4 separate regions of the Homo sapiens genome follow, and all the other regions are reported to be linked to region 2. The links are microRNA targets in miRTarBase. Many come from high-throughput screens and were not tested one by one. Region 2 holds a microRNA gene; each other region holds the end of a gene's coding sequence.

Region 1 (7,122 bases), not on the chromosome of region 2:
CAAGCTGGGTACAATGTCCCGTACAACGGGGAAACCTGATACACACGATGATATCCGGTGATGCAGCTACACACCTCAGGGACAACTCTGACTTCTCAGGAGCCAAGTCACAGCCTGACATCACCCTGGGGGAGCAGGGCTACAGAGCACACACAGGTCTTGCTGAGACAAAGACAGGCAGGAATAAAAAAAAATCAGCCATAGGTGGCCCAATTTCTATAAGCCGATCCAGGGCACTACCTCTCTGAGTTACATAAAATACAACATGCCAGAAACCAACCACTTGGAAAAGAGGCACGGTGTCCAGCATCAGCATGAAATGGATTCCGGCTGAGACAACAAGCGCCCAACTTCCACTTAAGAATACGGGATAAAGCTGTCTCCGGCTAAAGCCATGGCTATTCTTGCCCCAAGCCAGGAAATACCCTGGCTTGGCATCTTGAACAGAATTTGGACTGTGCCCAAAGCATCCTCCTTATGCAGCCCTGAGTCCTGTGTGCCACTTTCGCTTCCGTTCCCAGACCATCACAACTTCTGGCTGTTTTAATTTCTAAGACTTTGCTGGATTTTGCCAAGATCGAACTCCTTGGATCGCGTCTGGCTTCTGATCCCAGAGGTCCCCTGACAGAAATCTCTTGTCAAGAAGTGAAAACCTAGCCAAGTGCAGTGGCTGACGCCTGTAATACCAGCACTTTGGGAGGCTGAGGCGGACGGATCACTTGAGGTCAGGAGTTTGAGACCAGCCTGGCAACATGGTGAAACCCTGTCTCTATTAAAAATACAAAAAAATTAGCCAGGTGTGGTAGTGCACGTCTGTAGTCCCAACTACTTGAGAGGCTGAGGCAGGAGAACTGCTTGAACCTGGGAGGCGGAGGTTGCAGTGAGCTGAGATTGTGTCACTGGACTTCAGGCTGGGCAAGAGTAAAACTCCGTCTCAAAAAAAAAAAAAAAAAAGTGAACACCTAACCGACAGCGTTCTGATCCATCCATCCCTAGTCCCACTGGAAAGGCCACACATGGGGTGTATGGCCAAGATGTGACCAACCCATCACCTACCAGCAAACCCAGGTAGGGAATCAAAACGGGGAGGAAAATTGGATCTGAAAGGGACAACAGTGTTCCTAAGACCACACAGCAGAGATCACAGAGGGACACATACTCCACACACCACTGCTCACAGGGTGATTCTAGAACTTGAGTAGTAAAAGGCCACTGGAGACCTCTACACTGACTTCCCTATTTGACGGGAAGCCAGGCAGCCTGCAGACCAGGATCCTGACCACGTCACCAGTTGGCAACAGGGAGGAACCCCCTGGAGCTCCCATCTGCCCAGAGTCCCTGCCCGGGGTTACCTTGGTGCTCTGCTTCTCCTTCATAATGATCCGGGACAGGAGGACCACCCAGATGGGCATGGTGGCCTTGACTGCAAAGAGAGGGATGGGCACTCAGGGGGCTGCCTGAATTTCAGGGCCCAACCTGTTCCACCTCCACGGCGGGATGGGAGGGCCTGGCAGCCCCTCACACCTCTTCGCCCCTTCTCTTTCGGTAGGGCTTCCTCCTGCCACGGCTGTTGTGGTCTGTCCTGCTTACCTCTCAGCTCTCTTCTCAGCTCCTCTTCTCCCTGAGAACCCCGTGCGTGTCCCTCCCCTACCAAACCCTTGGCAGCCCCTCTGCTGACTTCTCAGTCCGGCGGGACGCGCCCCGGGCGGCGCACTCCTATCCATGCGCCCAAACCCGAAGCGGCGGGCCCGGCCGCCGCCCCCGAGGCCGGGCGCGGAACCTACCGGTGTGTGCATAGGACACGGGCACCTTCCAGATGCTGACGTGCGCTGACACGGACGCGAAGTACTTGCCGAAGGCGAGCGGTAGCACGTAGCGCGGGTAGAAGCGCGGCGGCAGCAGCGGGCCGGACGACGGATGCGGACTGGGTCCGGGGCCCGAGACGGGCGGCGCGGGGGGCACGCGCCAGGCGCGCAGCAGCGGCGGGAGCCCAGCGCACAGAGCCAGGATGTGGCACAGCGACACGGTCACCGGGAACGGGAAGGCGCTCAGGATCACCTTGTTGACCACGTTGCCGCCCGCGCTCAGCGCGTACCACAGCAGGCACAGCGCCGCCACCCGCGCGCCCTCGCGCGCCCCACCACTGCTGCTCGCTGCGCCCGGGCCCCCCGCGCCGTGGCCCGCGCCCACCGCGGCCGCCGCCATCCTGCCCGAGCGGCCGCCCCTTCCAGCCCGTCCGACGGCCCGACGCCGGGCGGGGGCGGGGCTGGGCGGGGGGGCAGGCGCCCCGGTCTACGCCGTTTCCCATTGGTCGCTGCCTCCTCGCGTCATCCCTCCGCGCCGGCCGACGCGCCAGCCACCACGTCTCGAGTGCAGGCCCAGTCCACTGTAGATGCGCTTCCGGCGGAGCCGAGGCCGGAAGCGGAAGAAGGGGACACAGACCTGCGTCCAAGCTGTGCCACCTGAGACGTGGGCGGTCCCAGTGACCGGGAGCCGGAGCTCGAACGGGACGGGCGAACAGAAGCGCGGAGGGCTTCGCAGCGTCGGCGTCTGTGCGTGGGCCAAACATCAGGGCCTCGACCAGGGATACAAGGGCAACCGCTAACTAGATTCCTGATTCCTGATGGCTGGCGGCGGCTGACACCAAAGGTAAAAGGCCTTTTAGGGAAAGAAACCATTTGTGAAAAGCTCTTGGGCTAAACTCGCTCTGCAAACTGGGGGCGCACGCTCGTGGCCAAACTCTGGCAGTGGGACTATCCCGGAGCACCCGATCCCTGGAATCATGTTCTGGAAACCACCGCGACGTGCGCAGTTCTCGGGCGTGGCCCTGGTATCATCCCACTGAATCCTAGGAACGCGGTGCGGTAGGTATCACTGTCCGCATTTCACAGACCGAAGTCCAGAATGGGGAAGCGACTTGTCTTAGGCTTCCTGGCCACACTGGGGACCGTGGTCATGGTAGCGTCCTTGGACACCTGTCTCCAAGGCTCTGCAGAAGGGGGAGGTGCCGGGCCCTGACGGCTGATGTCCAAGGACCAGCCGGGATGGACCAGCCCCAGGAGGCCCCAGTGGAGGAAAACAGGACGAGGTTTTCAGTAAGATGATCTTATACTAATTCAAGGGCTATAATTTGTTCTCCACATCGTGTGCCTCCAACTTTTTCGGGGAAAGGGTGTTAAAATTCCGTTACAGTGTTTTTACTTGTCAAATTAGAAGCAGCAACCGGCTGGGTGCAGTGAGTCAAGCTTGGAATCCCAGCACTTTGGGAGGCCAAGGTGGGCGGATTGCTTGAGCTCAGGAGTTGGAGATCGTGGCATCGATAACATGGCAGAACCTCATCTTTGCAAAAAATACAAAAATTAGCCAGGCGTGGTGGCGCACGCCTGTGGTACCCACTACTAGGGAGACTGAGGTGGGTGGATCGGCTTGAGCCCAGGTCAAGGTTCCAGTGAGCTATGATGGCGCCACTGCACTGCAGCCTGGGTGACAGAGCGAGACCCAGTCTCAAAGAAAAGTAGAAAGCAGCAACCCAACTTGGCTCCCCAAATGTTGGAAGGTATCTTAGCTTATCCTTGCATTCTCAAAGGCCCTAGGCCCTTCTGGATACATGGACACAGGCATGGTAGTCCCTGCAGGCAGGGGTAGTGGGGAGCTGCAACCTATCCCAAAACTCTAGAGATGCTGATAGGAGGCCAAGCTCTGCACCCTAATATCCTCCAGCTGTACCCTCTGTGGATCAGAGTAAAGTCACATCCTTGGGACACCATGTCTCAGCAGAGCTGTTAAACATAGGCACAGTGAAATTAGGAAAGTATAACTATAGGCACCCTACAGCACAGCTGAGTGTCAGATACTTCCACTGACACACTGACATGCTTTGTGTTTTAGTTCTCACAACTCTGGGGTATTCTCACCCCCCAAATGGGGACATGTGCACAGGAGTGAAGAGATGAGCTCAGAGCCACACAGCTGGTGGGTGGTAGGCCTGGGTTCAACCTCATCCTGCCTTCAAAGCCACTTTGCCCATGGCCTTTTGTTGGGGAGGGGAGTGTGTTCTGCACCAAGCTTTTGCCAGGAATCCCTGCTAGCTCTCAAACTGGCTCTGGACTGACTGTAGTCTTACAGGCTGGAAGGAACCTTTGGTTTGCCCTGTGAGACTGCATGTCTTAAGGTGTAGCTGTTTCTTCATTTGTGAAATTAAGCAGATATGGGTAAGATGACCTATTCCAAAGTGAAAAACTGGAAAACCAAAGTCTTAGCCTACAGTTTCAGGGACGAGGGGGAACTAAAAGATGAGCACTTTATAGTCAAGGGAGAAAAATTTTTTTGGAGTCAGCACCAACCAGCTAATAAGGCAGCTGGGGGCCAGGGCCATGGGGTGGCCTTTCAGACACACACACACAGCTCTGAGCCTCTGGGCCATACCTTGTAAGAACTAGGTATTTTGTTGAGGTGGGGGTAGTCACTGAGACCTGTGCTATGGGAGCCTCCTACAGAGGGCTGCTCTCTAGGCCAGGTAAAGTCTGGGTGAGACAAGAAAACATTCCTTAATGTGGCCCTGAATGAATAAAATGTGGAGGTCCTCCCAAATGCAGCAGCAGGCTAACAGGTGGACTGCAAGGCTGTGCCCTGCCCTGTCTCCCTGCATTGCAGCTGTTGGGGTCTGGGTGTTCCTGGCTAATAATCCACAATCCAGGAAAGGGCTGATTTGGTTGTGAAGGTCCAAATGAGAAAAGATTCTCAGACTGGTTTGTGCAAATGGTTTTTTTTTTTTTTTTATTTCCACATTTATATCACAAGGTGTCCACTTACTGGACCAAATAGCAAAGTTGCTCCCTTCTGCGTCCTGAGAACACAGAAGTCTAGGTACTGTACATTCACTAAGGCTCCTTGTTTTTGCAAATCGCGTTTATGACAAATAACCATAAGGCAAACGAATCTAAAGGAATGGTTATGAGTGTTTCCAGCGTACAGACAGGTCTTCCCCCTCGCCCCACAGTACAGCATAAAACCAGTAGCACCCACAATAACTTTTGTGTTGTTTTGGGGGGACTCTAGAAAGGTGAAGTTTTCTAGATGTGTACAGGAAGGGAAAAAAGAAAAGGGAGGAAGAAAGGAAAGGTTTTTTTGTCTGGTGGTCTGATGGAAGAGGAATTGTTTAAAATAAACATGAGAAAACTTAAATTTTTGCAGCATTTCTTTAAAAACTGGGTTATAACTGAAACCAGATATAAACAGGTGGCTGCCCATGGAGTGTGGGTCACACTGGCTGGCCAGCTGGCCCGCCTGCCCAATGCCAGTGGCTCACCACAGCTGAGAAGCTTCTGGCACATGACAGACAACACTGGCCTGACAGTGGCTGGGTAGGGAGCAAACAGAGGCAGTGGCATGGCCCACTGTCTCAAGACACTCAGGGCCAAATTAAAGAACAGAAAATGCAAGAGAGATGAGATGCGTGCTTCTGTTGCTGTGTTAAAGGTGACCTCTCCCACAGGTTTTCTGTGCCTGCCTGCAACTGAGGCCCCAGCTTTCAGGTGCTGGAAAGTGTCCGCACCTCTTTGGGGGTGAGGGACTAACGCTTTTTATAGCTGGTTTGCTATAGAGTTCTGAACTCACTTTGCCGTCCTTCCTTCCACGCGGTCCTTCTTCGCAATTTTGTTAGTAAACTGGTAGCAGCATTTCACAAAAAGAGTTTTGAGGGAAGAGCGCAGAGAGACCGCGTGACTCCCGCCCCCTCCCTCCCGCCTGGGCCGGACTCCCCGAGTTCCCAGCGCAGGAGGCAGCTGGGCCCCGGCCACCTGCCCACCTGCCTGCCCGCCCACCCGGCTTCTGCAAGATGGGAATGCACTTTGTGGCTGACAGGCCGGTCAGTCCAAGCAGACATAAGGCAGAATGTTCAAGCGCCCGTCGTCGCCGTGCGGATCGAGCGATATGCACTGCGTCCAGTCATACCAGTTACCCTGTGTGTCCTGACACCCGTTCACCCCCGGCCACTGGCTGGCCTGGATTCTGTCGAGATCGTCCTGTGTGACCTCCCGGGTCAGACCAGGGAGGTCCGTGGGCGGGCTTTGAGGCACCAGCACATGCAGCTGCCTGGCCCCTTGCCGGGTGCTCTCCTCCTGCTTCAGGTACTCAGACATGAAGTGGTGAGCCCCTGGGGTCTGCGCGCCCGATGATGAGAGCAGGCTGCTCTGCCGGCTCAGGTAGGACTGGATGATCTCGTTGCGTGACAGCTCCTTCCAGTTCGTCTGTTCGAAGGGGCTCTGGAGGCTGGCCTTGGCCTCCTGCTTGTCCAGCTCTGTCCTGGACTGCTGCTCCATGTGCACAGGGCTGTCTGCCCGCACTGGCTCTTTCTGGGTCAGAGGTTTGATCTGTCTCGTCATGGGGTCAAAGGTGAGCTTCCGCTCTTTTAACCGGACAGGCTTGACGCCCGCCTCAGCCACCTGCCCGTCCAAGTTAACCGTATAGTCTCGAGGTCGGTACCTCTTCTTCTTTTTACTGTCCGAGCCCCCTGAGGAGGCAGCATCACTGTCCGCCTTGGAGGAGTCTGGGGAAAAGCCTGCCCGGGACAGGAGGGGCTCGGCTGGGGACAGCCCTGCCTTGCAGCCCGGCCCCGCCAGCCGCTGGTGGCTCTCAGGCTGCTCAAGCCAGCACACTGGGCTTTCCGCACTGGGCAGCAGCTCGAGCCGCCGTACGGGGGGTGTGGACGGCTGTGCCAGTGGAAGCGGTGACGGCACCTGTGTGGCATCGAGTGCCTGGGGCCGCGGTGAGGGGCTGGGCACGGAGCCCTTGGGTGCATACAAGCTCTGCTGCCGGGCAAAGGAGCCCTCATGCCGTGAGTTCCGAGGACTGAAAGAGCAGCGAGGGGGTCCCTTGGGATGGGGAGGCCCCGGAGTCTCGTCCACCCTGTCCAGCTGCTGCAGCACCGAAGCCTTTGGCTGCAAGCAGGGTCCAGGGGGCTTGCCCAGGCCCGGGGAGCTGGTGTGCGGTCGCACGGCGTTGACGGGGATCTTGCCACTGTGCTTGTCATTCTCGTCACGCTCCAGGCGGCTGCCCTCTGGGCCTGCATGCCCACTGCCATCCAGGGAGCTGGCGAAGCTCTCTGGACTCCCACTGATCCCG
Region 2 (7,122 bases):
CATGGGGGAACCTCCCCTACAATCCACACCTCCCTTTCTCCACACATGAAGGTTAAAGGTCTCCATGTAAGAATCCCTATTACAGGTCCCTCCCTTGACACGTGGGGATTACCATTCGAGATGAGATTTGGGTGGGGACACAGCCAAACCGCAGCAATAAGGAAGACTGAAGGGGCTCTAATTTTAAAAATATATAAAAAGATAAGATTTGGAATGCTGTGTTTGAAGTGATGGCAAATTATCCAATATTAGATTTCTAGGGTTTTTAAAATCCCTCTTCCAAAAGAAAATTTAACAAAGACAGAGGGTAACAAAAGGTAAAGATAAAACCTAGGAAAGTTCAGTGTCATAATTGTCAGGGCAGAATGGATTTTCTAAAGTTAGGGGCAATATATTTTGTGTTGCTGCTGAAACAAATTTGTACAAACTTAGTCTGGTGGTTAATATTACATGTCACTTGATTGAATGAATGCCTAGATAGTTGGTAAAATATTGTTTGTGGGTGTCTCTGTGAAGGTATTACCAGAAGAGATTGACGTTTGAGTCAGTGGAGTAGGAGAGGAAGACCCACCCTGAATGTGAGTGGGCACCATCCGGTCAGCTGCCATCACAGCTAGAACAAAGCAGGCAGAACAAGGTGGAATAAGCTGGCTTGCTGAGTCTCCTGGCTTTCATCTTTCTCCAATGCTGGATGTTTCCTTTGGTTCCTCCTGCCCTTGGAAATCAGACTCCAGGTTCTTCAGCCTTTGGACGCTTGGACTTACACCAGTGGTTTTCCAGGGGCTCTTGTGCCTTCAGCCACAGACTGAAGGCTGCACTGCCAGCTTCCCTGCTTTTGAGGCTTTCGGACTTTGAACCACTGCTGACTTCCTTCTCTAGCTTGCAGATGGCCTATCATAGGACTTCACCTTGTGATCATGTGAGCCAATTCTTTCTAATACACTCCCTTTTATATATACATGTATATGTATTGTTAGTTCTGTCCCTCTTAAGAACCCTAATTCACAACGTCACTTAACACAAATTAATTTTCTTAGGATTCCAGATAGCAGAGGTCTGAAATGGGTTTTCCTGGGCTAACATCTATGTGCTGGCAGGGTTGTGTTCCTTCGGAAAGCTGGGAAGAGCTCTCCAGGGAAGATTTCTTTGCTTTTCCTGTTTATGGAGGCTGCCTGCATTGCTTGGCTCATGTTCCCTTCCTCCAATTTCAGACTAGCAGATAGAACACTCTGACTTCTGATTCCATGGTCAGACCTTTCACTTTCTCTTCTACTGCCCTCTCCCTTCTAGGGACCCCTGTAATTACATTGGGTCCACTTGGATAGTCCAAGATAATGTCCCCATTTTGTTTCTTAATTGTATTTTCAAAGTCCCTTTTGCCATGTAAGGTAACATAATCACAGATTCTGGGGATTCAAAAGAAAATTTCACAGAGACAGATAAACATATCAAACATATTTGGGGGTCATTATGCTGCCAACCACATCACAGGCAGTTATAATGCACATGGATAGTAGAGAGATTGCAAGAGGGGAAAGTGTGGAGAGGAAATGGAATTAAAGATGGAGATTCTCATTCAAATCATTAGTGAGCATAACGAAAAAAGTATAAGATGACTAATAGAGCATCTCAGTTGCCCCTTTGTGACCATGTAAGTTAGACTTAAGTCTAAGTATACATTATTGAATATGCTTTATCAATATTTTTCTAAGGTAAAATTTTCATTCATAAAATGCATAGATTTTTACAAAATATGTAATCTGAGTTTTGATAAATATATGCATGTGGTTTACCACCACAGCAATTAAGACAGATAATTTTTTCACTCGAAAAAGCAAATACCCACAGATTTCATACTTCCAGCAATATATTTTCATTCAAAAATTTTTAATCTATAGATTGGATGAAATATATCTATTTTTATATGTATATAAATATATATATACATATGCATGTGTGTGTCCATAATGTTCCTTGATTTTTTCTGCTTCTAAAGGCTGCCTGGAAGCGAAAGAAGGGGTCCCCTTCTTCCATTTTCAAGCTTGCAAATTCATAGCTTGAAATTCTATGGTCAAGTCATCGTCTTCTCTCACTTTGACTCTAAAGTATGTATTTGGTTCATCATAAGATTTATATATATGTATATATATATATACATATACCTTTCTACCTATATATTTGTAAGTTCTCAAAGGATAGAGACATTAAACTCCTAATACCGGGCTTAGACAACTGGCCTACCACATTGTATTTGTCCGTTTTCACACTGCTGATAAAGACATGCTAGGGACTGGGTAATTTATATAGAAAAAGGTTTTATATATATATTTTTTATACTTTAAGTTCTAGGGTACATGTGCACAATGTGCAGGTTTGTTACATATGTATAATGGACTCACAGTTCCACATGGTTGGGGAGGCCTCACAATTATGGCAGAAGGCAAAAGCCATGTCTCACATGGCAGCAGACAAGAGAGAATGAGAGCCAAGCGAGGAGGGTTTCTGCTTATATAAACCATCAGATCTCATGAGACTTATTCACTACCAAGAGAACAGTATGGGGGAAACTGCCCCCGTGATTCAATTACCTCCCACTGTGTCCTTCCCGCAACATGTGGGAATTATGGAAGCTACAATTCAAGATGAGATTTGGGTGTGTAAACAGAGCCAGACCATATCAAACATTTTGATAACCTCCATTATTACGTTTTTGCTATAGTATCAATATTGACTTATCAGGAAAATATTATAGTGCATATTGTAGATCTCTGAAATAGAATCATTGCTATTATAGTATCCTCTTCATGTAATTCCTGCATATCTTTTTATTTACCAGGACTGTTAGTGATATTAACCACAAGTTATTGCTTTTAGTAAAATATTTCTTGGCAGATCTTGGTGTCTAAATGAGATGACTGGGTTTTTTTTATTGTTGTGTTCTTCCCCTAACTATAATAATTAGCTATAAAATTATCTCAGACATATAGTTGGTTAATAAAAACCTAGGAAATAAAGATTAGACCAAATTAAAATTTTGTTTGGAGCTCGAGCAGAGTCCATAAATCTAAGTTGGCAAAAACAAATGAAAGTATTTTATATTTCACTTGGAATTTTAGGAAAGAGCACTAGGAGAAAATGCATATTTTTTTTTCATCACTTGCAGGGAATAACCAGAGAAGGAAAACTCTGCAATCCCATTGATATCTTGGTACCCTTGCCAATTGACTGGGCTACACACACCTTATATAATGAGTCTTAGAGACAATCAGAAAAGTATTCCCACATAAATCAAGAAAATGGATAGCATCAAAGCATAATGTTGTTGTCATTACTGGAAGTCCAGGGCCAAAGTTACATGTAAATTGGCAAACAAGACAAAATCAATGCAAGTGACTTGCAGGTTTGAGTCTGAAAACCTGGCTGAGAGAGAAAGCTGAATATCCCACGTGGATGAGGGTGGCCTCAGATGGAAATGAGTGGTTTTAATTTAAGCAGCTTGCTGTTGACAGAAGGGACTATCTGCCATGCTCATCACTTATTAGCAGTGCTGATGGCTTCACACTTGAAGAAAGTAGAGAGTTAAATTTATTCAGGTCATCTGTAGGCAACAAATATGGAGACAAAGTGGCAAGGGCTGTTTTTCCCAAATGTTAATGTGCATAAAAATATTAAAACAAGCAGGAATTTTACACTATCCCACATACAAGGCTCTGTTTTGAGTAATATACTCAAGTCAAAATACATAATATTATTTTAAAATTTAAAAAAATCACTTGACGTGTTGGCAAAACAATGAAACTTAAAGGACATGGGCTCTGGTGCCAGATGATCTAAAGTTTGAGTTTGCCCTGGCCCTGAGTTAGCTGTATAAACAGGATATGCTACTTAACTTTGATAGCTTTAGTTTTCATCGTGTGGAAAATGGAGAGGATGCCCATCTCACTGTGTTTTTATGAAGGTTAAATGTGGTTATAGATTTAAAATATGTTGCATGCCTTGCACGATACTGGCTTCCCATCAAGAGTTTTGAGTATATTACAGGTATTTTCCCCTCTTCTTCCCTGCTATCATTCTCAGTTGTCTTTTGGTGGAAGGTAGCAGATTGGATTAAAAGATTGCTTTTTTTTCTTTTCTAGAGTTCAACTAGGCCCTTTAATGTTGGAGGAACCAGGGATATTCTGTGGACATAATTCTGGACAGCAGAACCTAGTTTTCTCCATGCAGAGGAGAATCATGCTGTCCTCAGAGGGTTTATTCTTAAGCAGTTCTCACTGACATGAGAGACAGTGACCCAGTGTGTTGGCATGGAGGGATGGGCAGGAGTGCACCTTGCAGTAGGCAAGTTCTCCTCTAGTACATGGAGCTGCCTCCACGTCACACACTCTGGCAGCAGAAGTTTTGGTGCTGTGAAATCTGTGTTCTCTAGGGATGACTGAAGTTGTCATCCCAAAGAGATTTGAAGGGAATATACTCTCTCTAGATACAAATAACACATATCCTATGTGACAGTCTGTCTTCTTGTTGCTTGATTTTATCCTGATGTTCAGTTGACATTACTGCTTTATATAGAAATGGTTAAGTGACTTTTTTTCTTGTTTACTTTTTTATTTTTTATCACCTGAGCAGACATACATACAAACACACTTACATGTTTATATTATATTATATATTTACAACCCAAGGTTAAAAATGATAGAGCTGCGGTGCTTATAAACAATTTAGTAAACCTGAAATTGTTACTAATACAATTTAAGCAGTTTAGTTAACTTTTTAAAAATTACCAGCACTTGTAAACAAATGTTTCTTAAAAATGTGTAAGAACTAATACTCCTGCATACAAATTTTAGTTGATTTCTCTCCTTAGTTTTAATGGAATAATAATGTTTTATTGTCATTATCTGATGGACATGATTACTGCAGATATTTTATCATGTTGGCATTATGATTTAGTAGAATTTTACCGTTTAATTCTTAAATATACACAGAAACACTGCTCAGAGTCCTCTGGGCAATAATATCTGGTACAGATGCATGAGGGAAAAAGAGCAAAGCTATTACTGTTAGGAGTGTCTGGTCACTTAAATCTTTCACACATCAGTGGAAGAATAGATTTCTTAGTGCTGAAAAGCACAATGATGACTTGTATGTTATAGATTTGTGATTACATTAAAACTTAAAATTTCACAAATCTATAATATGCAGGTCATCACTGTGAAAACTATACGTTTGCAAAAGCCTTAAATTATATAAATCTTTATGCATTTAGTAAAACGTTATTTCCTTTTATGTTGAACTTTGTCATGACCTGTTCTAGAATATTACATGGTATTGACTTTTGAAATGGCAGCAAAGGAACAAGTTTCTTAAATATCTATTTGATTGATTTACATTCATGCAGATGCATTAAGTCTTTCACTGGTTGATGTTCTTCTTTCCAAGTGGATTACAATCAGATTGAAGACCAACTTTCCAGATTCTGCCAAATCCCACTTCTCACTCACATTTCCAAGATTGTCTCAGGAACATTCTTCAACAAACATGACAACATCAAGTCTTTCAAGTAGTGATTTTTCTTTTTATGAATGTAGGCATTACTCTGTGAAAATGAATTACATTAATGATAAAATGCAAGAAACTAACAGCAAAACATCTGATATAAGACAAGATAAAATGTGACACATTTATTGAATATTAAATAGTTACTTAGGTTTAAATATTTAAAACTATGTAGATATATGGCAATCTCAAATACATCCAGAATATGAAGGGGAAATTGAGTTTAATGCATATACCTATATTTTCTTAATATTTCTGTAAATGTAACACTAGCTATTTTGTGTAGAGTTGTAGCCAAGTCAAGAAACCAGTCTTAGTCTATAATGGTTTGAGACCTTGACGAGTAAATTAATACCTTTTGGTTTTATTGATGACAATACTGATGTCTGGGATAGGAACTTTGAAAGTCATTTCTTCTAAGTAGCAAAGCTGCTTGTTGAATTGCATTTTCCATTATCTTTGCTGAGGGGTTCCATAGTCACCTCTGCATCAACATCTCCATTCAACTTGTCATTTTCCCTTCAGTCCTTAGGCTGATTCTAATTTCTATTGATTAATAAGTGGCATTACATCTTGCCTGTTCAGCCAGTCTCAGCCTCATGTCCTCCTCACATTCCATATCCATTCTTTTTCTCCACTTTCTACATTTGACTGATTGCCAAGACCTATACATTTTAATTCTATAATAACTGCCCAATCTATTTCTTCTCCACTACTGCTGCAACTACTTGAGTTTGAGTCTCCATCGCTTCTTATTTGGATTACTCTAATGAATATATAACAGATCTCCCCACCTCCAGTCCTGTTTTCCTCCAACTTTTCTTCATAGGGTTGTTACCATATTCTTGGAAAATAAAAATCAAGTCGAGTTACCCATCTTCCACTGCTGCCCACTTCTTGTTAAAGGCCTTGACTGGCTTCTCTTAGATTAAAAAAAAATCAAGATAAGAATTGAACTGAACACTGAGAACACATGGACACAGGGAGGGGAACAACACATATTGGAGCCTGTTGGAGGCACCAGGGGAGGAAGAGCATCAGGATAAATAGCTAATGCATGCGGAGTGTAATACCTAGGTGATGGGTTGATAGGTGCAGCAAACCACCGTGGCACAGGTTTACCTATGAAACAAACCTGCATGTCCTGCACATGTATCCCACAACATAAAATTAAATTAAAATTCGTATTAGAATTGAACTATTAAATTTTGACTGAAAGAGAAAAGGGTAGATGCATCTCATTTTCTTCACCTACAAAATGCTATGATCTAATTTGATTAAGGACTCATCAGTCTCCCCAAATTCTACCATCATAGATGAAATTCCTGTGCCTGCTTTTCCTGGCACCAGTGTATCCTGTGCCTCTACCACCATATACTGTCTATCTCTTAGACACCCAGCTTATAATAGAGAAGACAGAAACCAAAAGAATTGTTGATTCTTAGGATAACTTGGGGCATGCCTAAGTATGCCCTAAGAGCATACTTTCAACACTGAGTCGAGAAGAATTACTGAGTCTTAGGATAATTTTATGAAACAAATAATGCCCAGGGATATCATGCTCTT
Region 3 (7,122 bases), not on the chromosome of region 2:
TTGTATTTTCCCAAAATCAGACTACCAAGATGGAAACTAAGGTTTTTTGACTCTTAGTAGATGGCACATTGATGAGTCACACTCCTTCCATTGAAGCGTCTAGCAATTTCATAACCAGCCTATAGAAGATACCAAGCACACATGTAACTTTTAATTTAGGTTTCAAATCATTGATTGAAAACAACAGGATATCCTCAGAAAATAAATGAAAGATAAAAGGCACCTATAATTCATCTTTCAAGACTAATCTGATGACCTATCTCAAGATTTGCAAGCCGATGTCACAGACTTTTTTTTAAGGGAGATGGGTTAGGTCCATATAATGTTTAGGGATTTAAAAGTTGTTGCTTGATGATGCAAAGTGGTTTCTAGTGATTGTCATTTTGTTTTCTCAGGGATCACCCACTTTCTTTGAAATCTGGTGCAGAATTGTCATCTAAAGTGCATGACAAATTTGCCCATGTCTAAATTACAGTGTATGCCTTTTGCCATGGTTGAAAGTGATAGTAAAATTTTGTGAATTTTAAGCAGATTCTGATTTAAATATTGTTTTAAAGATTTGAAAGGTGCATTATTTATTGTTTCTTGTCAGCATTATCTTGCAGAAATTGTAAGGGTTAACAAACTGGTTGTTCTCTGTCAAAATTACTGAACCAGTCTTATAACTTCTTTTAATTCATTTATTTCATAAGGAGAGAAAGATCTTTGAAAGAGTAGCTATTTTTAAGCCAACCCTAAGCATATTCCTTCCTTTATCCTTCCCCCTAATTTGTGAGGTCAATGACATCCACCCATTTGACTGATAGCAAATCCCATCTGTATGAAATCAGCTTATCTAAATACATTAGGAATGCCCAGCAGGCCTGTTTCATGGAAATTAAATTGGTGAATAACTTTGTGGTGAGAAAATCATGAGGTCATGGTCACTATTGCTTTAAAACTAAATGAGCAAATCTTTCGATCAGTTTGCTTTTGCTCTTTCCATAGTCAGAGTTCAGTGGTCATTTTCCTCTCAGAGTTTGACATTCAGAGCATCTCTAAAGCCAGAAAATAAGAGCAAGGTTAGCTGTTGGGGTTGGGGGTGTGCTGATGAAGTATGAGGTAAGCAATAACCCTGACTGATGAGGTGTGAATATATTGCCTCAAATACTGCTCAAAAGTTTGTGATATGAATTAGAACTATTATGTCTTTGAGATAATCTTAGTATAGACATTATATTTGGAGACTTCTGTGTATTATGTTAGCATATTTTGCTTAGAGACAAAGAAGTAAGATTCTATACAGTAAAATGGTAGCTGGGGGTGGGGGTCATATCAATTTAAAGAAAAATAATTTTGTTATGGGCTACTCTGTGTTGGGAAAGTACTTCTACTTGGTATCTCCTCATTCCAGGTTAAAAACCTGAAATCTAGGAGGTGAGCATTGCTTAGGATAATCATCTCTTAAGAGTTATAAACATAGCTTAGGCAATAACTCATGAGAAAATACTTGTTTGTTGCTTCTCTATTTCCCCTTTCACATTTCCTAAGGAAGCCGTTTAAAACTTGTGCATGTTCATGATATACCAAGTCTTCCCTTATCAAAGTCATACCTAAGTAACTAAGATATGATGAAGAAAGGTTTTTTTAGAAAAAATTTTGGTGCAAAGAATTATGTCAATATGTTTTTAAAATGTGCTTATTCTTAAGATCCGTGTATCTGATCTCAGCACATCCCAATAGTTTGTAAAATGAAGGACTGCCTATTGTTAAATGACGCTCAGGTATCAACAGAGCAAATAGAGTGATACTTGGTAGGAAAGTGGGGTGAGGGGAACAGTCATGGTTGGGAGAAGAGGATGTCTTCTAGAACAGTGTTTATTCTAAGGAAATAACAAGGTTGAATCCCTTTGACTCTACGCTTTGATGTCCTCTGGGTCATCTGATGATACACCTATTTTCGTGAGTGGTAGGATGTTTATGAAGAAGGTGGTGAAAAATGCAAGGACATTCATGTCTTATTCCTCTGAAGTTTATTTGCTACAATACATTTGCCATGGAATTGTATGTGAATACTCTTTCAATTTAATTTCAGTATAAATATCGTAGGGCATATAAGTAGAAAAAATGAAGGTGGAACTGGCTGTAAGCAGAGGTTATTTAGGAAATAATCTCTGTAATGCAGTGCTTCCCTACATTTCAAGACACACATTAAAAATGGGAATGTTTGTTAAAATATCCTGAGGTTAGCCAATGAACATGATGGAGGCTGGGAGCTCCAATTACCCCAGGCACTATACACCACCCCAAGGTGCACACCTGTAGCCCATCTGCAAGGCATAAATCTGTAAATCATCTGTAACACACTGATGAGAAAGCTCTGCACAAGTGTGACTTTTTGCAAGTAGATTTCCATCTTTTCCATCTTCATAGGTAACACTCCACATGCACTCAATCTATTTGATCCTCAACTCAGCAGCTTATTTATTAGTAAATGTATCTGATTTGTGCTAATCACAAAAATTATTCTTTACTCTGAGTTTTTATGAAGAATCTGGCCACTTTGTCTCAATTACAGCTATATGTAACACAAAGTCATTAAATAAAATTCACGCAAGCTGAAAGAAAAAGGCATGCTCTTCAGTAAAATCTTTGGCATTTCAGGTCTTCTAAGAAATAACCACATCCACCTCATCTTTGTGAGAGGTCTTTATTTCCTAAGTTGATGATGACACAGTAATAAAAAAAAAAAGTGCATGAGTCCATCTATTATCTTCCCTGAGCCTGAAAAACAAAATAACCTATGCTCCAACCCTAATCCCAAATCCACTCTCTTCCCACATTCACCACCACCAGAGTCATATCCACCTCTTCTTTTCTCTCGATATTGCATGTTGGAAGAGATAATTTAAAAAGTAGTAATTGAGTCATCCAATAGTCTTTAGTTGCAGCAATTTCACACTCTAGCTACACATTACAATAAACTGGGGAGCTTTAAAAATTTACCAGGTGCCATTAAATACTATTCCATAAGGATGGAGAGACAAGATGCCCCAGATAAAATAAAATAGTTTAGAAATAATCTGAGGCAATTAATATGCTGAAATGCAATACAAAGATGAGCTCATAGAAAGTACTGATTATTGTTAGCATTGAAGTTTTAAAGAACAAGGTTCAGAGGAGCTGGGGCTTGAGTTGGAAAGTGCAAAGGATATCCTCAGGTAAAGACCAGAGAAGAGGGCTTGATGAGAGAACAGAGTATGAACACTATAGACAGACTCCAGGTAAACTCGGAGTGGTTGCGGAAAAGGAATGAGGCAGGCCTGGTTAGTTTTAATATTAATTTGAGAAGCAATAGGAATTGGTATTACATAACTGGGCAAATTCAGATGATGGAGATACTTGAAAATAACACCAAGAGTTCATCCTGGAGTTCAAATGATAATTAGAGGCTTTCATTGGAGAGGAAGGAAATGAGATTACAAAGATAGGACAGTGCCCAAAGTCTCTGGGGTTCTTGAGGGCACCACTTGAAGACTGACTTCTGCAGCAGGTTTAATGACTTGAATCTATCACCCCTTCTCAATATATACCTTTCTTGTTGCTCATTACCGTAAGTGTAAATATCCCTGATAACCAGTTTGTATGTACAACTATTACTATGTGTTTTCCTTTATGAAGCATGTCTCTGGGATTTCCTATTGCATAGCACCTAATAGCAACTAACAAAATGTAAGTTATAACAAATATTTCCAAGATGGTAATGAGCTCTTCTCTAGTTATATAGTCTTGGATACATCACTTAATCCCTCCAATCTTGGTTTACTACATTTTTGCAATGAATACACAAGATTTACGTATTTTCTAATCTTACATGTAGCATTAACTTCACATAAGTTTCTGATTATCATTCTCAGCCATATAAATGATAACATTTGTAAAGAGAAATTGCTTCATTCCTGGCCATTTACTCCCACTAGGTTTGAGCAATCTATTATTTATACAAGGAATTGTACAACTTTTGTTTTCTCTGGACAGTTCAAAAAAATAACTGATGTTTGACAAGAAGAAAAGAATATTGATCTTATTTATTTGTTTTTTGGGTTGATAAATAAAGCTAAATTTAAAAATCTGTAGGTAATACACTGTAGTGGCATAAATATTTAAGATCAGTAAAGGAAATCATCAAACTATTGTCATTCATACATGAAACGTACAAAGCAAATAGTTATGATTTAAAGATTTTAATACATAATTAAAAATCAACAATTATTACATAGTTATATAACATTGATACTGTTAGATATGTGGATGTATATATTTTTCTTTCCAGTAAAATAGTTTCATGCTTATAAAAGTCACCCTAGGTCAACTTGGGACAAAGAAAACAATGTACAGTAGAAATAAACCAAGTATTAAATAGAATATATAGGTAAGGAAAAAATATTATAAAGCAGTTACATTTTTGACACACACACACACACAAATAAATACACTTTTCTATTATTTGAAGGCAATTCACAATCATTTCCAGGAATTCCGTGAGAATTTAAGGCCATTTGTTCTAAAGAAATGCTTTAATTTAGACACAACTTCACAAAACTGTAATTCTTGTAAAAACTGTACATGCAAAAACCCTTTACAATTATTCGTGGACAGGCAGGTCAGTATATAGGAGTAGGTTATTTCACAAATGTGTTGTGCACTAAGTCACATAGTTGTATATATTTAACTGGGAATTTCACAAAAGACTTCCAGCCTGTGCACCTTGTGTGGCAACGTGGAATGGTGATAACAAGAAATTCCGATCAAGAGAGCCAGTATCCCTTTGAATTAAAATATCTAGACAAGATATAATGGAATAAAAAGTTTAAAACATCTGCTACATAGTTCACAGTTAAATAGTCTTGGTTTCAGTCTTTCTAAATAGCATTATTATATAAGGATGCTACTTTTTACAAAGTATTTTCTGTGCATTTATAGATCACAATGTTTGACTTTTTATAATTTCTACTTAGTGTTACAAAATACAAACCAACTGCAGTCTAAATTTAGAACCCAAACTCCATGAAAAATGCATGTTCAACCAGGAGACACATCTGCCGGGCTTAAACTCCCATACCCAGCAAACATTGCTGAGAAATTGTTTATTAAGCAGATGTAGTTTCTTAAGACAATCCAGTTACTGAAAAATAGAAAAGCATTTTTCCCTTCCCTTATTTGCAATTGTGTTTGTCCAGACAGTCATTCAAAGAGATATTGCTCTTGTGATTATAGCTATTGCAATTTAGAAGACAAAGGATTCAGTATTTAAAACTCTTATTTTTAAGAACAGTTATAAAAGTATTGAAATTTAAAAAGTAGTAACATGTAAACATTGATACAGAGACTGCTTTCCTATACACATAGCAGTCGAAGACAATATTTGAGTTAAAAACACAGTTTGTGCTTTTTCCCAACAATACATTGGAAATTAGCTGTTTCTGTTAAAAAAAAAAAGAAAGAAAGATTTAGAGAAGACATCCATACTTTGCTTCAAGCATTTAAACAATTTTTTCTGTTGCTCATGCAACAACCATATTTACAGTTTTGGTTTAGGAAGATATTTAAATTTGGATCCAAGAAAGCACATTAACTGCTGAAACCAAACTGAGAAAACTATCTCATTGCCTGGTTCATTACAGAGCACCAGGCACAAAGCATTAACTCAGCACTTTTGATTTGTAGTTGACATTAGCATTTCAGAGCACAGTCATATTTGAGTCTGTAACACATGTGTAGGTGGGGTGTATGGGGGAGGCGCAGGTGATGGCTTGATTCCTCGGGCTCTCATATAGGAGAGAAACTGCTCAGGGATCTCAGCTAGGACATCTTTAGCCAATCTAGCCATGCTCAGTATGTGGTTTCCACTTCTGTCAATATAATCCCTGAATGGCACAAACTAAAACAGAGACGAAAGAAAGTTATTTCACAGACTTTAGCAGGCTATGTAATAAACACAAAAAATCAACACATGTACACATTTGGTCATAGGAAAATCAGGGAATCTGAGAGTAATGGAGAGATGGATAACAATTATTATACATTTTTAAAAATATTCAATAGGCCAGGCATGGTGGCTCATGCCTGTAATCCCAGCACTTTGGGAGGCTGAGGTGGGTGGATTACCTGAGGTCAGGAGTTCAAGACCAGCCTGACCAACATGGTGAAACTGTGTCACTACTGAAAATACAAAATTAGCTGGGTGCGGTGGCACACCCTTGTAATCCCAGCTACTCGGGAGGCTGAGGCAGGAGAATTGCTTGAGCCCAGGAGGCAGAGGTTGCAGTGAGCCGAGATCATGCCACTGCACTCCAGCCTGGCCGACAGAGCGAGACTCTGTCTCAAAAAAAAAAAAAAAAAAAAATTCAATACACTACAAATAGCTATAAGTGACTAAACTTACATAATATATGCTTTATCTCAAAAGGAATGCAATCATTTTCTATGTTTTTCCTCCAATAACTCATGTCACTTAATCCTAATAGGCTTATTATGTTGCCAAATGTCTTCTGCAGTTTTAGGTTCTATACCCAGCCTGAATCCCAACAGGATGGAGCATTTAACCTCTTTGGGGCTTGGTTTCCTGTCAAATGGAGTTAATATATGCCTAATTCAGCTTCTGATATAAAAATACTACCCAATTCTGGATAAGAAATGAGTATTACCCAATTCAGGGTAAAATATAATAGTGTACATTGTTAAAAAGTCCTAAACACATTAAAGTATTTTAATTCTTTCTAAGACAAAATCGCATGGACTATGAATATAGAATTCACACAGCTCATATTAATAGGAAGCTGAAATATTCAGTACATTGAGTTTTGCATCAGATGTTGATTTTTGAGTATCTACTATTTGGGAAGACAGGAAAAAAGATCTTGGCATAAGATTTGGGTATATTTCTTATGGAAATATCATCATTCTAACAACATATATTAGGTTGGAACAAAAAGTAATTGCAGTTTTTGCAGTAATTTGTGGTTTTTCAATGGCAAAAACCGCAATTACTTTTGCACCACCCTTAATAAAAATGATTACTATATCTTTATATATGTAATTATGTGAGAGCCCTTATCGGCTCAATACCAAATGCTCCTGTAA
Region 4 (7,122 bases), not on the chromosome of region 2:
CTGAAAGTTGTCAACTTTGAAGTATGGAATTAAGGACAAGGAGTTTGAGAATCCAAATAGAAAGTGCTGACACCATTTGAAAAATCTCTTGTTAAGATCTAGTTTATCTATTCAAAGGAAAGTGGTCTTTTTGGAGGCTCTCACCATCGTTAGCTTTTAGTTCATCAGGTAGACAAATGAGGAACATTACCTAGTTCACATATACATATGCACATACACCCAGATTCTAAAGCCAGATAATTTTTTTTTTTTTTTTTTTTTTTTTTTTTTTGCGACGGAGTCTCGCTCTGTCGCCCAGGCTGGAGTGCAGTGGCGCGATCTCGGCTCACCGAAAGCTCCTCCTCCTGGGTTCACGCTATTCTCCTGCCTCAGCCTCCCAAGTAGCTGGGACTACAGGTAACCGCCACCACTCCCGGCTAATTTGTTTTTATATTTTTAGTAGAGACGGGGTTTCACCGTGTTAGCTAGGATGGTCTCGATTTCCTGACCTCGTGATCTGCCCGCCTCGGCCTCCCAAAGTGCTGGGATTACAGGCGTGAGCCACCGGGCCTGGCCCAAGCCAGATAATTTTTAAAGGTCTCAGAAATTACTTCAATCCCAGCCTCTCATTGACATTAATCTTACAGAGCTACAGTACTACTAAATACTCTTCAGTAATAACCAGCACAGTAAAGGATTGTGAAGAAATGCTAAGGTGATAAGGGAATGTAATGATCATCCAGACCAACCCACTTTGTTTTATAGGAGAATCTAAGACCAGGCAAGCTATTTTTCCTTTTAATCAGAAAATACAACTGGTACTGAAATCCAGGTCTCCTCCCTTAAGAATAATGTTCTTGGCCAGGGGCGGTGGCTCACACCTATAATCCCAGCACTTTGGGAGGCCGAGGTGGGCAGATCACGAGGTCAGGAGATCGAGACCATCCTGGCTAACAAGGTAGAAACTCTGTCTCTACTAAAAATACAAAAAATTAGCCAGGCATGGTGGCGGGTGCCTGTAGTCCCAGCTACTCAGGAGGCTGAGGCAGGAGAATGGCATGAACCCGGGAGGCAGAGCTTGCAGTGAGCTGAGATTGCGCCAGTACACTCCAGCCTAGGCGGCAGAGCGAGACTCCATCTCAAAAAAAAGCAAAAGAATAATGTTCTTACTGGGTGTGACAGCGCATGCCTATATTCCCAGCTACTTGGGAGGCTAAGGCAGGAGGGTCACTTAAGCCCAAGAGTTCAAGACCAGCCTGGGCAACAAAACAAGATCCCATTTCTAAGAAAAGAAAAATAATAATGTTATTTGTTCAGGGTCCTTTACTTCAGCCTCAGTGGTTCCATCCTAGGAAATGTTTAGACGCTAACAATGTGGCTGCATTGTCTCCAGCTATATCTTTCTCTTCTGTTTATATCTTTGAGAAGAAAACACAACAGAAGGGGACCTCTAGGATGAGATAGGGTTCCCATTCTAAGGCAGTAGAATGGGAAAAGCCACTGGCTAAAGTCAGCCACCCAGTAGCCCAGAAGAGCACAGTGAGATTGAGATGCTAAGAGAGTAGAACAGAGTGCCAACCTGCCCTTGTCCCCATTATCCACTATTTGATGCATTTGAAGAGAAAGAGTGACTCTGGCTCTAAGATGTTAGAGAAAAGCGATCATTGCTATTATCTCATAGGCAATGATGGCAGTGGAGAAAAAGTGATGGTTTCAAGGAAGGGGCAGATATGAATTTACTATGAGCCCAGTGAAATGTAAACTTCACTAACTTGAACCATTCCACATCCTGGGAATTTTGTATTAACAATTTTGTATTTTTTTCCTTAAAGAGGTTTCCCCAAATTGTATAAGCTTAGGCTCTACAAAATCCCTAAGAATTCAGTGTGCTGAAGAGTCCAGCACCTTCTAGAAATGCCTCAAAAGTGTCAGTTTTAATAAACTTGTAATAGTTTATTAGCTATGACAAGTCCAAATGACTACTCTTTGGCCCTTCTTTCCAAAATACATCAGTAAGATTTCTAGAAGGAGAAGAGATTATGTTGAAATCTTTACAAGCTAAGTAATAGACCTTCCTTTCACACCAATATTTAGGATTTTCATCCTCTTGGTTCATTATTGAATCTAGTTAAACAGTTTCTATAGAAATTTTATTTCTGAATAACAAGTACAACGTAATAAGCAATTACAAATGAGATGTTGAAATAGAGTTATTTTGCAGATTTGTTGCATGTTCATGACTTGAAAACATTAGATAGAGGTAAAAACCATGAACATCTTTGTTTCTATTTAGACGGATATTTATCTTCGTGAGATATGTCCACTATGGTTTTACTTTAAAACCACAAATAAAGTTTTAACAATGGGCATTTTTCTTGTTGAGAGGTCTGTGGTCAGACTAAACAACTCTCGGAAACTGATTAGATCCTGAGGTTTTCAAATTCAATATTCAGCAAATATAGATCATTTCTTTGGCCATAAGGAATAATTAAGAACTTCAGAGCTAATGCAACTCTCCTGAGCCTGCTTCTGTTTTTTTTGGATGACACGATAATCAGACAGCCTTTTCTGGTGTTGGTCCTCACCATATTTGAGATTGAGGCAGCATAAATCACACACAATTAATCTTTTGAAACTCTAGGTGACATTGCTTTAGGTTTTTATATCAGCAAAGCCTTCATTTGCTAGTACTCAACTTATGGGAATTTTATATATTATTAAGTGCTTTCCTTTTCCTCACTCCCAATTATCCTGATCCAGAAAAGTAGACACATGGTCATTATGTGAAGACAAAGGAACATTGAATAGTTAATTATACAACAGCCAGAACTGTCCACTGTGTATTCATCCTTGTAACAGATCACTGGAGGGTAAATTAGCATATTTAGTTTGAAATCTTGTAAAATAGAAACGGGATTGTTTGAGTAGTTGCAGTTTACATAGTAACCTCATACTTCATGGAGATCTGACTCAAAATAACACAAGGCTCAAAATAATAGGAAAAGGAATGCTCTGTAAATGATCCACATTGCCTAGGTACCTCCACTGACAACATGTATTTGATAGTGTCTAAAATCCTCTTTTCCTGTATAAACACAGTATCACTGTAATCCTAGACAGCACATTTGCTTTCTCTTAGAGCCTAACTCCCTTCAAATGATAGGTCTAAAATAAAATATGCAGAAGTCATTAAATTGTAGCATTTTCATTGTTGGGAGGGACCTCCAGAGGTCACCTAGTTCATCCCGATCTCCAGCCAGGACTCTTCCTAATACTGAATATAGCTGTACAGTGATCTGCATTAAGAAAGCTTTTAAAGATCCCTGGGGTTGGGCAAAAAATAGCTAATATTGGCCTGATTCATAGAATAGCATTATACGAATGTCATAATAGCCACCTTCATCAAGGAAGACATCCATCAGGGCTAAGTGCTAGTACTAGCTTCAGAAGGAAAAGCTTTATTTTCTCAGAGAAAAGGGTGGTAGATTAAGGAAATGACCCAGCATGTTGGTATTTTGTTGTTGTTGTTGTTTAGGTGTACATTTAAATGCTTATCAAAAAGGAAACATTGTCATGTCAAAGACCACTGCAGGGGAAGCCCAGAGGTGGCTGTAAGCAAGCAGATCACAAGTCCTTTAACAAGTTCTTTCAAATAGCAGTAGAGCTCAGAGGGGGGCTGTTGTTTCAAACAAGATTCAATTAGCATCAAGTTATTAAAGGGCAGCCGGGGAAACAAGAATAATATTGACAGACCTGCTTTTTAAGCAGTATCTTTTCCCTCTAATCAGCTGAGTTTGTTGGAGCTGATCATTTTATTTCTTCAACTCCATTCAACTATAGGTGCAAAGAATGAGAACTTCAGTGTAACTCCAATTTTCTAAGAGAACTAATCATATTGCTGCTTTATAAAAAAGGTAATCTTTCACAGTTGCTTAGATTTATGAATAATTAGATTTAAAGCATTATACTGGAATCTAGAAATCTAGCTAAAAGAGCTGAGGTTCTTATCTGAATTATTTGGGCCGTTAGCCCTTCTGTTGAACTATAGAAAGAACTTAAAGATATAGTTGTAAAATAAGGACGTACTCCCCAAAACTGTCCCAAGTATCCACTTGATTCTGTATCTTTATATTGCATCTTTTTCTCATATTTCTGCAAGTTTACATAAACTCTGGTCAACTATGAATGCCTCCCGGGATGAGAAATGGGAGTTTGGGTGAAATAGATTAGAGAATAGGTTTTGGGGTTTTTTTTAACCACATACTCTCTTGTCAACTTTCAAGTTTTGTGCTTGTACCTCTTCCAAAGTATTCATTTGAAAATATTTCATTTTTGAAATCAGAAAGGCACTGTCTGTGCTCTCTCTCCGCCAGATACTCAGTCTGGGTTACAGGAAGTAGAAATTTGTGACTACTAGCCTTTCCCAGCCTCCTTTGTAACTCTTGACTTTGGAAATGGGAATTCAGCCACTGAGAACTTTTTGATGTGCAGCTGCCTTTCTCAGGGAACACTAACCAAGAAACAAAGTCTTCAGGTCACCTTTCCTCTTCCTTTTGTGAGGACAGGAGACAAAAGAACAAGATCTCCCTGAAGTGTCTCCTTGGCTTTACAACATTCCACAGTAGGCACCTAACACTTGAGTTAAATGTGCAGACTACACACCTACCATAAAATTAGGGCACTCAAGGTAAGGAAAGTATTTCCATAGTTACTTGGATATTTGGCAGAGTAGTTTTCTCTCTTAAACTACTAATTGCCCATAACTTGCTGGGTGTGTACACAACCTGTAGGAAGTATTATTTTTAAAAGTTATCGGCTGGGCGTGGTGGCTCACGTTTGTAATTCTAGCACTTTGTGAGGCCGAGGTGGGCGGATCACCTGAGGTCAGGAGTTCGAGTCCAACCTGGCCAACATGGTGAAACCCCGTCTCTACTAAAAAAAATACAAAAAATTAGCTGGGCATGGTGGCTCATGCCTGTAATCCCAGCTACTGGGGATGGTGAGGCAGGAGAATCACTTGAACCTGGGAGGCAGAGGTTGTGGTGAGCCAGAATTGTGCCACTGCACTCCAGCCTGGGCAACAGAGCAAGACTCCGTGTCAAAAAAAAAAAAAAGTTATCAACATAAACAAATTCTCATAGCAGAATCAAGAAAATTCAAATACAGGAAACTGAATCAACTTTAAAGAAAGAGAATCATTATTAAAGAGTGTAAGAAAAGCAGAGAGCAGCAGATTCTATAATTTTTATTACAAAAAAAACCCTTTACATGCTATGACATTAAATGTCACTTATAAGGTCATTGCAAGCAAATCTTTTTAAAAAATATACATACTGTATATATTTACATTCAAGTTTGAATAATATTTGTCAAGATATAGTTCAGATTCTACTCTTTACCCATTCTGTGGATTTGTTCATCTAGTAACTAAACAGCGATTGTATCATCACTCAGGCACATAGAGAGGTAGAAACCGCTTTTTTAAAGAAAAAAAAACTGGAGTGCAAATGTGAAGATCACTGAAGCAGCTTAGCTACATCAAGGAGACCCTAACTAGCTTTGGTCATCTCAAAAAGCTGAATATATGTAGCCTTGTCCTTTAAATTAAAACCAGAAAAACTTTGGGCAGGTGCTCTTCTGAGCACATCAGAGTGCTGACAGAACTCAGCAACTAATGGTCTGCCACTCTGCAACGCGAATTGCACATGACTAAGTGAGGCAAAGATAGCAGCGGAGCTGGGCTGGCAGCTGGGCACCTTTTCCCTGATAAGACACAAATCATAACCAAACAAGTGGCTTACAAGACAGTCAATTAATATCTGGACATATAGTCTGGAACTCGGAAGCCAACTAAAGTACTTCATTTCCCAAGTGAAATCCCTATTCATTTTTGTTCTCCCACCTCCATCCCAAACTGAGCTCCTAAGTCTAGATAGGGATGGGGGTCGCCTGGGACTTCTGCAGGCCACAGTTTTTCGGCCCCAAGTACCGGCCTCACGAAGGCTCTTGGGACTGAGAAGGGCTGCCGGGGTTCTTGATAAACTTAGTGGGGGTTGTTCCAGAGAGGGGAAGTTGGAGGGGAGCCACAGGAATGGCCGTGGCCAGAAGCCCTTCTCGTTCCCTTTTCTTCTGTTTCATCCTGCGGTTCTGGAACCAGATTTTGACTTGCGTGTCATTCAGGTGCAAGCAGTTGGCTATCTCGATGCGCCGGGCTCGAGTTAAGTACTTATTGAAATGAAACTCTTTTTCCAGTTCTGTCAGTTGCTTGGTGCTGAAATTCGTGCGGATCGCGCTGGAGGGGCTAGCGGCCCCATACTCGGCGAGTTTGCCTGCAACGTAAAGACAGGGCGTCAGCCAGGCCTGAGGCCGGGGACAGAATGTGGGTGAGCAGTGGAGCTAGTTAGAATCAAAGTCCCAGCGCAGCCCTCCTGGGTCCCTAGGAACAGAATTTGTACCAGGAGAAGTTCCACGGAGAGCTCCTTCCTGAAATTTTCTCAATGCCTGGCACATTTTCCGAATCTGTACTCGAGGCAGACTCCATGGAATTCGCCCGGGAACGCGTCTCCTCCACAAAACCCAAACCGCTGTCTGGAAAGGCAGCGACACCACGCTCCCAGCGCATTTCCGCGGGGGAGGCTCCGTCCCCAACCCCAGGTGGCCCCATCCAAGGCCCGCGGACTTACCTTTCTTAGAGGCATTCCTCTTCACTTTCATCCACTCGAACGTGCTGAAGGCGGCAGGGAGGCCGGAGGCGGGAGAGACGGACTTGGGGTAGGTGCCTGGGGCCGGGGATGCGGTCTGGAAAGCACCAGGGTGGCCGTCGGCTGACGCTTTGAGACAAGCCGGAAAAGGGCCGGGTTCGCCGAAGGCCGCGTAATCCACCTGGCCGCTGAGGAGGAAAGAGCCGCCGCCCGAGAAGACGGCCGAGGTGGCGTAGTGGACGTGAGACCCGCCGTCGTCGGCCGCCCGCCCCAGCACGCCCGGGAAGTCGTACGCCGGCCCGGACCCCAGGAAGCCGTAGTCCGCGCCCCCAGCTGCCGCGGCAGGTGCGGCACCAGGTTCGTAGGCCCCCTCCAGGGTGCACTGCGCGTACTGGGGCGCGGCCGGAGGCGGTACGGACGGCCGCGCGGGGGCGGCCGGGGG

What was found. The annotated mature microRNA hsa-miR-4719 reads UCACAAAUCUAUAAUAUGCAGG and lies in region 2 at 5,182-5,203, shown strand. An mRNA with a match to its seed (bases 2 to 7 or 8) in the 3' UTR can be bound and repressed. Matches are read on the target gene's strand: a 7mer-m8 pairs with bases 2 to 8, a 7mer-A1 pairs with bases 2 to 7 and ends in A, and an 8mer does both.
Region 1: miRTarBase lists MED26 as a target of hsa-miR-4719. Seed matches in the 3' UTR shown: 7mer-A1 at 5,681-5,687.
Region 3: miRTarBase lists CPNE8 as a target of hsa-miR-4719. Seed matches in the 3' UTR shown: 7mer-A1 at 4,721-4,727, 8mer at 4,667-4,674, 7mer-A1 at 4,574-4,580 and 7mer-m8 at 4,461-4,467.
Region 4: the mRNA of HOXD1 is a reported target of hsa-miR-4719. Seed matches in the 3' UTR shown: 7mer-m8 at 5,752-5,758.

Annotation. Positions count from the first base shown.
Region 1 is chr19:16,570,160-16,577,281 of GRCh38, forward strand. It overlaps MED26 (mediator complex subunit 26), which reads right to left. Exons shown (of 3, transcript NM_004831.5): 3 at 4,760-7,122. The coding sequence ends at 5,868. It overlaps SLC35E1 (solute carrier family 35 member E1), which reads right to left and starts at 2,256. Exons shown (of 6, transcript NM_024881.5): 1 at 1,785-2,256; 2 at 1,353-1,423. The coding sequence starts at 2,205. It overlaps LOC105372295 (a long non-coding RNA gene), which reads left to right and starts at 2,391. Exons shown (of 3, transcript XR_936360.3): 1 at 2,391-2,649. RefSeq lists silencers at 1,623-1,752, 1,913-2,022, 2,153-2,372 and enhancers at 2,291-3,165, 2,473-2,562.
Region 2 is chr16:76,863,807-76,870,928 of GRCh38, forward strand. It overlaps MIR4719 (microRNA 4719), which reads left to right and starts at 5,130; the gene lies at 5,130-5,213.
Region 3 is chr12:38,648,151-38,655,272 of GRCh38, forward strand. CPNE8 (copine 8) reads right to left here. Exons shown (of 20, transcript NM_153634.3): 20 at 4,053-5,920. The coding sequence ends at 5,732. Among named protein-coding and RNA genes, the nearest start is that of CPNE8, 250 kb to the right of the region's middle.
Region 4 is chr2:176,188,994-176,196,115 of GRCh38, reverse strand. It overlaps HOXD1 (homeobox D1), which reads right to left. Exons shown (of 2, transcript NM_024501.3): 1 at 6,663-7,122; 2 at 5,209-6,308. The coding sequence ends at 5,974. Among named protein-coding and RNA genes, the nearest start is that of HAGLR, 3.6 kb to the right of the region's middle. RefSeq lists an enhancer at 3,306-3,846.